Linked DNA regions of Homo sapiens. The protein of the gene in region 1 purifies or fractionates together with the protein of each later gene. This does not show direct contact. Each region holds a gene or a part of one and is shown in the gene's direction. Other genes may lie near its edges. The genes, in order: RRP36 and RRP12.

Region 1 (3,054 bases):
AGAGCAAGACTGCATCTCAAAAAAAAATGTGTGTGTGTGTATGTGTGTGAACTTCTTAGGATAATGCTTTACATAAAATTTCAGCTAACATTTGCAGAATGCTAACCATGATACTCATTTTCCAATGTGGAGCTTGTGAAAAAACAGTTGAAGAAGCACCTTTCAGGAGAGGAGCATGAGAAACTGCAGCAACTGCTTCAGCGAATGGTGAGTGGGTAATAATTGTGGTGGGTAATGAAAGCAATTAAAGGTGGGAGATATTCACAGATCTGAACAGATCCCTCCCGTTCACCCATCTCATCTTTGCTCCTCAGGAGCAGCAAGAAATGGCACAGCAGGAACGAAAGCAACAGCAGGAGCTGCACCTGGCCCTGAAGCAAGAACGTCGGGCTCAGGCCCAGCAGGGCCATCGGCCATACTTCCTGAAAAAATGTGAGTTGGGCACAACTGTTGCTAACAGGGACAGGGGTGCAGGGGCCATGGTGGTAGAGTCTTGTGTTGGGGTGTCCCTGATCCCCTTTAAGGAAGGCATGAAGGCTGGATCCCATGGTAACTTGGAGGAAAGTAGAAATAGTAGGGAGTTGTTTGTAACCAGTCTTGTATCCCTAATTAGATCATGGCAGGCATTGTCACCTTTATTTCTTGGTCTACACTCCCCACTTCCCAACCCCCCCCCCCCAACACACACACAGTGAGTTTTATCTCTTGGTCTACACTACACACACACACACACACACACACACACACACACACAAACACAGAGTCAGTTTTATCTCTTGGTCTACACACACACACACACACAATCAGTTTTATCTCTTGGTCTATACTACACACACACACAGAGTTTTATCTCTTGGTCTACACACACACACACACAATCAGTTTTGTTTCTTGGTCTACACTGCACACACACACATGCACACACGCTGGGCCAGGCACATAGGTGTTCATAGTTGGTTGAATTGAGTAGTACTGAGATCATATAAAAAGTCATCAGTTGGGCTGGGCACGGTGGCTCACGCCTATAATCCCAGCACTATGGGAGGCCAGTGTGGGGGGGTCACGAGGTCAGGAGTTCGAGACCAGCCTGGGGGCCAACATGGTGAAACCCTGTCTCTACTAAAGATATAAAAAAATTAGCCGGGCCTGGTGGCGTGCACCTGTAATCCAGCTACTCAGGAGGCTGAGGCAGGAGGATCACTTGAGCCCGGGAGGTGGAGGTTGCAGAAAGCCTAGATTGCACTGTTGTACTCCAGCCTGGGCAACAGCGTGAGACTCCATCTCACAGGAAAAACAAACAAACAAAAAAAAGTCACCAGTTGGGCCGGGCGCAGTGCCTCACACCTGTAATCCCAGCACTTTGGGAGGCCAAGGAGGGCAGATCACGAGGTCAGGAGTTCAAGACCAGCCTGGCAAACATGGTGAAACCCCGTCTCTACTAAAAATACAAAAATTAGCTGGGTGTGGTGCTGTGCATCTGTAATCCCAGCTACTCAGAAGGCTGAGGCAGGAGAATCGCTTGAATCTGGGAGGCGGAGGTTGCAGTGAGCTGAAATCGTGCCACAGCACTTCAGCCTGGGTGACAGAGTGAGACTCCATCTCAAAAAAAAAAAGTCACCCGTTGGCCAGGCGCAGTGGCTCACGCCTGTAATCCCAGCACTTTGGGAGGCTGAGGAGAGCGGATCACCTGAGGTCAGGAGTTCGAGACCAGCCTGGCCAACATGGCGTAACCCTGTTTCTACTAAAAATACAAAAAAATTAGCCATATGTGGTGGTGCGCGCCTGTAATCCCAGCTACTCCGGAGGCTGAGGCAGGAGAATCACTTGAATCTAGAAGACGGAGGTTGCAGTGAGCCGAGATCGCGTCACTGCACTCCAGCCTGGGTAACAGAGCAGGACTCCGTCTCAGAAAAAAGATAGAGGGGCACCAGTGAGCTTTAAAGAACTCATGTATCCAGCATAATGGCTTGGAGTTACTGACCTGGTTTGGGAAAGAATAGGGGCTTCCTTCTTTGTTCACCAACTTTCATTCTCCCTGTCATTTAGCTGAGCAGCGCCAGTTGGCACTAGCTGAGAAGTTCAAGGAGCTGAAACGCAGCAAGAAATTGGAGAACTTCTTGAGTCGAAAGAGGCGACGAAATGCAGGCAAGGACAGGAGACATCTCCCTTTGAGCAAAGAGTAATAAGGAACTATCCTCTGCTCTGCCACTGCCCCAGGGAGACATGGATCTGTGAGGACAGATTTGGCCACGGCTGGTTTCCGTTCAAGGGCAAGGATCACAGCTGCCCTTGAATCTCATTGCCTCAGAGAAGACTAGAGGGCTCTTGGACTATCCCTAGGGCTACACAAGAATAGTTCAGCCTTCTGCCATGCCACACAGCCTCAGCTTGAATCTGGTTCATTGCGTCCTCGTGTTCTTCTCTCATCCTTGCCTTAAACCAGGGATTCTGATACCGAAGAAGAGGGGCCAATGAAAACCATGGAGTCTGTTCGTGACTCCCAGGGCTGGGACATTATGTAGGAGCCACTTCATAAACATTCTCTTTACTCATCTTTTTATTCTGTTTTTTGTGGCCTTCTTTTTGTGTTTCCCCCCCGAAACAGAGTCTCGCTCTGTCACCCAGGCTAGAGTACAGTGGTGCAATCTCGCCTCACTGCAACCTCCACCTCCCAGGTTCAAGTGATTCTTGTGCCTCAGCCTCCCGAGTAGCTGACATCCGCCACCAAGCCCAGCTAATTTCTTTCGTATTTTTAGTAGAGATAGAGTTTTGCCATGTTGGCTAGTTTGATCTTAAACTCTTGGCCTCAAGTGATCTGCCTGCCTCAGACTCCCAAAGTGCTGGGATTACAGGCGTTGAGCCACCGTTCCGGCCTTAAGGCCTCTGCTTTTATGTGGGATTTGTGGGTAGCCTAGAACTACTTTTTAGTGGGCCACATATTGGGATAGGCAATAAAGCCTAAGGCATCTACAACTGGGAAGTCAGATCAGAAACCCCTCCCACTTAAATCTGGGCCCCTCAAGGATGACAAGATCATTTAGTGGGTGAACCAAT
Region 2 (3,815 bases), on another chromosome or scaffold:
GAGGGTGCTGGGCTCACACTCTGTCCCTCTGTCACACTGCAGCCATGGACCTGGCTCAGGCAGGCAGCACAGTGGAATCTAAGATCTACGACACACTCCAGTGGCAGGTAAGGGTCAGCTGGGGGAGGGCGTGGGGAGAAGCACACAGGGGCACAGGTGGCTGCGTGTCACCTTCCTTTATTGTCCCCTCCTTCTCCAGATGTGGACACTCCTGCCTGGGTTCTGCACAAGGCCTACAGATGTGGCCATCTCCTTCAAAGGGCTGGCACGGACGCTGGGCATGGCCATCAGCGAGCGTCCAGACCTGAGGGTCACCGTGTGCCAGGCCCTGCGCACCCTCATCACCAAGGGCTGCCAGGCAGGTACGTGTGGGCTGTGGGAGTGGGGGCTGGGGAGGATGACACAGGTCCCTGGCCCCATCCCCTGGCTTGCTACACTCCTTGCCAGGCAGAGCCACAGAAACTCACCTCTGGAGCTCATCCTTTGCTGCTTCTGCTGCAGACCCCAGGGGATAACTTTGCTGGCTCCCTGGGGTTGGAGCCATCGAGGACCATGGGCCACTGGGGCACCAGGCTCTCCATGCCCTGGCTCAGCTTCTGCCACAGAGAGCCCCAAACCCATGGATTCCAAGTCCTGCCAGCTCCCCCAAGAGAGGGCCTCTGGGCCACAGCCCCAGCAGCCACTGAGGCACAGTCAGCTCCTGTGCCTTTAGTGCAAACTTTGATCCTTTTACCAGAGGCTGACCGTGCTGAAGTGAGTCGCTTTGCCAAGAACTTTCTGCCGATCCTCTTCAACCTGTATGGGCAGCCCGTGGCAGCCGGGGACACTCCAGCCCCTCGCCGGGCTGTGCTGGAAACCATCAGAACTTACCTCACCATCACTGACACTCAGGTGAGCCACGGAAGGGAGGGAAGGAGGGAGGAGGGGAGCTCTCAGGTGGGCAGGGTCAGAGAGGCCGAGACCCTACCCACCAGGGCTCACGTGGGTCTCTGTGTTTTGGAGCACATACCAGCAGTCATGGCTTGGGCAGGGCTGGGGGCTGATGGGGAGGCCGCTCTGGGACTGCTGCCATTGCTGCTTTCTTTCGCTCCTCCCCAATGACTCTCTTCTCCTCATTCCCTCGGGGCCACAAGTTGGTGAACAGTCTCCTGGAAAAAGCCAGTGAGAAGGTGCTCGACCCTGCCAGCTCTGACTTTACCAGGTAACATGCTCAGGGCCTCCCACTTGAGCTGGAGCAGCCCAGGGAGCTGGAGGGTGCATCTGGCAGAAGCACTGTGGGTTCCCTCTTGCATTATTTAAGGAAGCCTTGAAGTATTAACTCTCCAGGCTGTGCTGAGAGGCTGTGCTGACTAGTTCCTTCTTCCTGGAGAGGCCATTTAGTCTGGTAGGGAGGAACAAGGACCCAGGAGATACACTGCCCAGGTTCTGATCCCAGCCCCGTCACTCATGGGCTGTGTGACCTTGGACAAATTACTTATCCATTCTGCCTCTAAGGCCTCATCTGTAAAATGGGCACGATAATAGTTCTTGCAACAAGGTTGCTATGAGGATTGAAGGAGTTAGCAGGTGTAAAACACCAGGAACGGTGACTGGTACATCATGAATGCTCAGTTAGGTACTAGCTATTATTATTGTTCATGAGCTCCTTCAAGCCCCTTGTCCTCACCCTGACTTCTCCCACCTCCCCATACCCAGTAGACGTAAGAACACTGGTAGTCTGCGCCCTTCTCCAGCTCCCCATCCCTCTCCTTGTCCTCCTGCCCCGAGCAGATTGTCTGTCCTGGACCTGGTCGTGGCCTTGGCTCCGTGTGCTGACGAAGCTGCCATCAGTAAGCTATACTCCACCATCCGGCCCTACCTAGAGGTGAGCCTCGGGGGCCAGGAGCGCCACACAGCCACGCTTGGGGGCAGATGGGCTGTGGGAAGGTGGGGCCTGTCTTCATGTCTTTGTCCCTTGCTGCTTCCCGAGATCAGGTCCCTGTCTGCTTTCTCCTGCAGTGGCTTCTCTTTGTGTCCTGTGTAGCCCATCTGTCTTGCAGGTCCCAAAGGGACTGAAATGCACAGCTGTGCTTAGGCCTTGCGTGCTGAGTGACTCTTGTAGAACCAAGGCCATGCTCCTTTGCCTGGCTCACTCCCCAGGCCCATCCCAGACCGGCCTGAGCTTTATCCCACCCAGTCCACTCTCTACTTCTGCTGCAGCCTCCTTCAGCTGCCTTAAGCCTCCCTGATATAACAGGCCCTGTCTGTGCCTTTGCAGGGTTTGGGTCCTCAGCTTGAAATGCCCTCTGCTGTGGCCAGCAACCCTGCAGATCTCAGCCCAGCAGTGACCCCCTGAAAGCTGCCCCCATTGCCACAGTTTAGTAGCAGTTACCTAACAGTGTGAGAAGTGCTCTGGGGCAGCACTGCAGGTGGACATGGAAATCCAGGGCCAGGCCACGTCACCTCAGGAAAGGTGTCCGGCGTTGGGGGTTGGGGGAGTGTGACAGAGAGCTGGTTTGGAGGAGCAAGGAGTTGTCAGTCTTGGAAGGAGAGAGAAGAGTGCTCCGGCTAGAAAGAGCAGCAGATGTGCAGGCCTTGGCGCGTGCCAGGCACCATGAGCTCAGGCCACTGGAGTGAGCACTGTCCAGAGCTGGGTGAGTGGAGTGGATTGGTGGGCCCCACGGCACACACCCCCAACCCCTGTGCCTCGCCCAGGAGTTAGCCACTCGCTGTCCACATTCCACTGGTCCTCTGTCAAGCCACATGAGCCCCCACGGACCCCTGCTCAGAATCCCTCCAGTGCTGGGGGATGCTCCGTGGATAGCATTGGACAGGGAGTGAGCCCCAGGCCTCCCTCACCGGTTCCTGTCTGCCAGAGCAAGGCCCACGGGGTGCAGAAGAAGGCCTACCGAGTGCTGGAGGAGGTGTGTGCCAGTCCTCAGGGCCCCGGGGCCCTCTTCGTGCAGAGCCACCTGGAGGACCTGAAGAAGACACTGCTGGACTCGCTGCGGAGCACCTCCTCACCCGCCAAGAGGGTGAGGGCTCTAGGGCCACCCGCTCTGCCGAGGGAGCCTGGGCAACACCAGGAAAGGAGCCACTGTTGAGGCTTGTTGGGTGGAGGTAGCATTGAGGGGTCCTGACTGGTAGCCCTTTGCCCACAGCCCCGTTTGAAGTGCCTCCTACACATCGTGAGGAAGCTCTCAGCTGAACACAAGGAGTTCATCACTGCCCTCATCCCAGAGGTGAGTGTGCGGGTGTGTTTTAGAGGGGGGTCCCTGGAATGTGGCTCTTAAGGGCCTCAGGATCCAGGGAGGGCAGTGATGGGAGTGGGAGGACTCGATTCGCTTCCCGGGCAGATGGCTCAGGGAGCAGATGCTGATGGAGTTGTCTTGGCCAGGTGATCCTGTGCACCAAGGAGGTGTCGGTGGGCGCACGGAAGAACGCTTTTGCACTGCTCGTGGAGATGGGCCATGCTTTCCTAAGGTTTGGCTCGAACCAGGAAGGTGAGGCCCAGGGGGCTGGGGGTGGACACTCTGCTCATAGACTGGGTGGGGGGAAGCACCCCTCAAAAAAGGTGGGGAGAGCTCTGTGCCCTGGCCCTGGGCAGGCTGCTCCTCTCTGGCCCTCAGCCCCCCTACCTGGTGGGTCCTTCCTGCTTGACCCACGTTGGTCTCTGTCCCCAGAGGCCCTGCAGTGCTACCTCGTCCTGATCTACCCTGGCCTGGTGGGCGCGGTGACCATGGTCAGCTGCAGCATCCTGGCCCTGACCCACCTCCTTTTCGAGTTTAAAGGTAAATGCTTATTTCCTAGAAGGCCTGAGAAGCCCTCAGATTAGG

Evidence for each region.
Region 2: the proteins of RRP36 (region 1) and RRP12 fractionate together in Homo sapiens (co-fractionation; one large-scale study listed by BioGRID). This does not show direct contact.

Annotation. Positions count from the first base shown.
Region 1 is NC_000006.12:43,027,046-43,030,099, forward strand, and holds the end of RRP36 (ribosomal RNA processing protein 36 homolog), read left to right. Parts: intron 1-84; exon of another isoform or gene 85-132; coding exon 133-207; intron 208-314; coding exon 315-432; intron 433-2,046; coding exon 2,047-2,183; 3' UTR 2,184-2,554; downstream 2,555-3,054. UniProt on the Homo sapiens protein: Involved in the early processing steps of the pre-rRNA in the maturation pathway leading to the 18S rRNA.
Region 2 is NC_000010.11:97,370,122-97,373,936, reverse strand, and holds part of RRP12 (RRP12-like protein), read left to right. Parts: intron 1-42; coding exon 43-107; intron 108-199; coding exon 200-362; intron 363-736; coding exon 737-891; intron 892-1,133; coding exon 1,134-1,201; intron 1,202-1,770; coding exon 1,771-1,864; intron 1,865-2,855; coding exon 2,856-3,014; intron 3,015-3,140; coding exon 3,141-3,221; intron 3,222-3,376; coding exon 3,377-3,482; intron 3,483-3,662; coding exon 3,663-3,770; intron 3,771-3,815.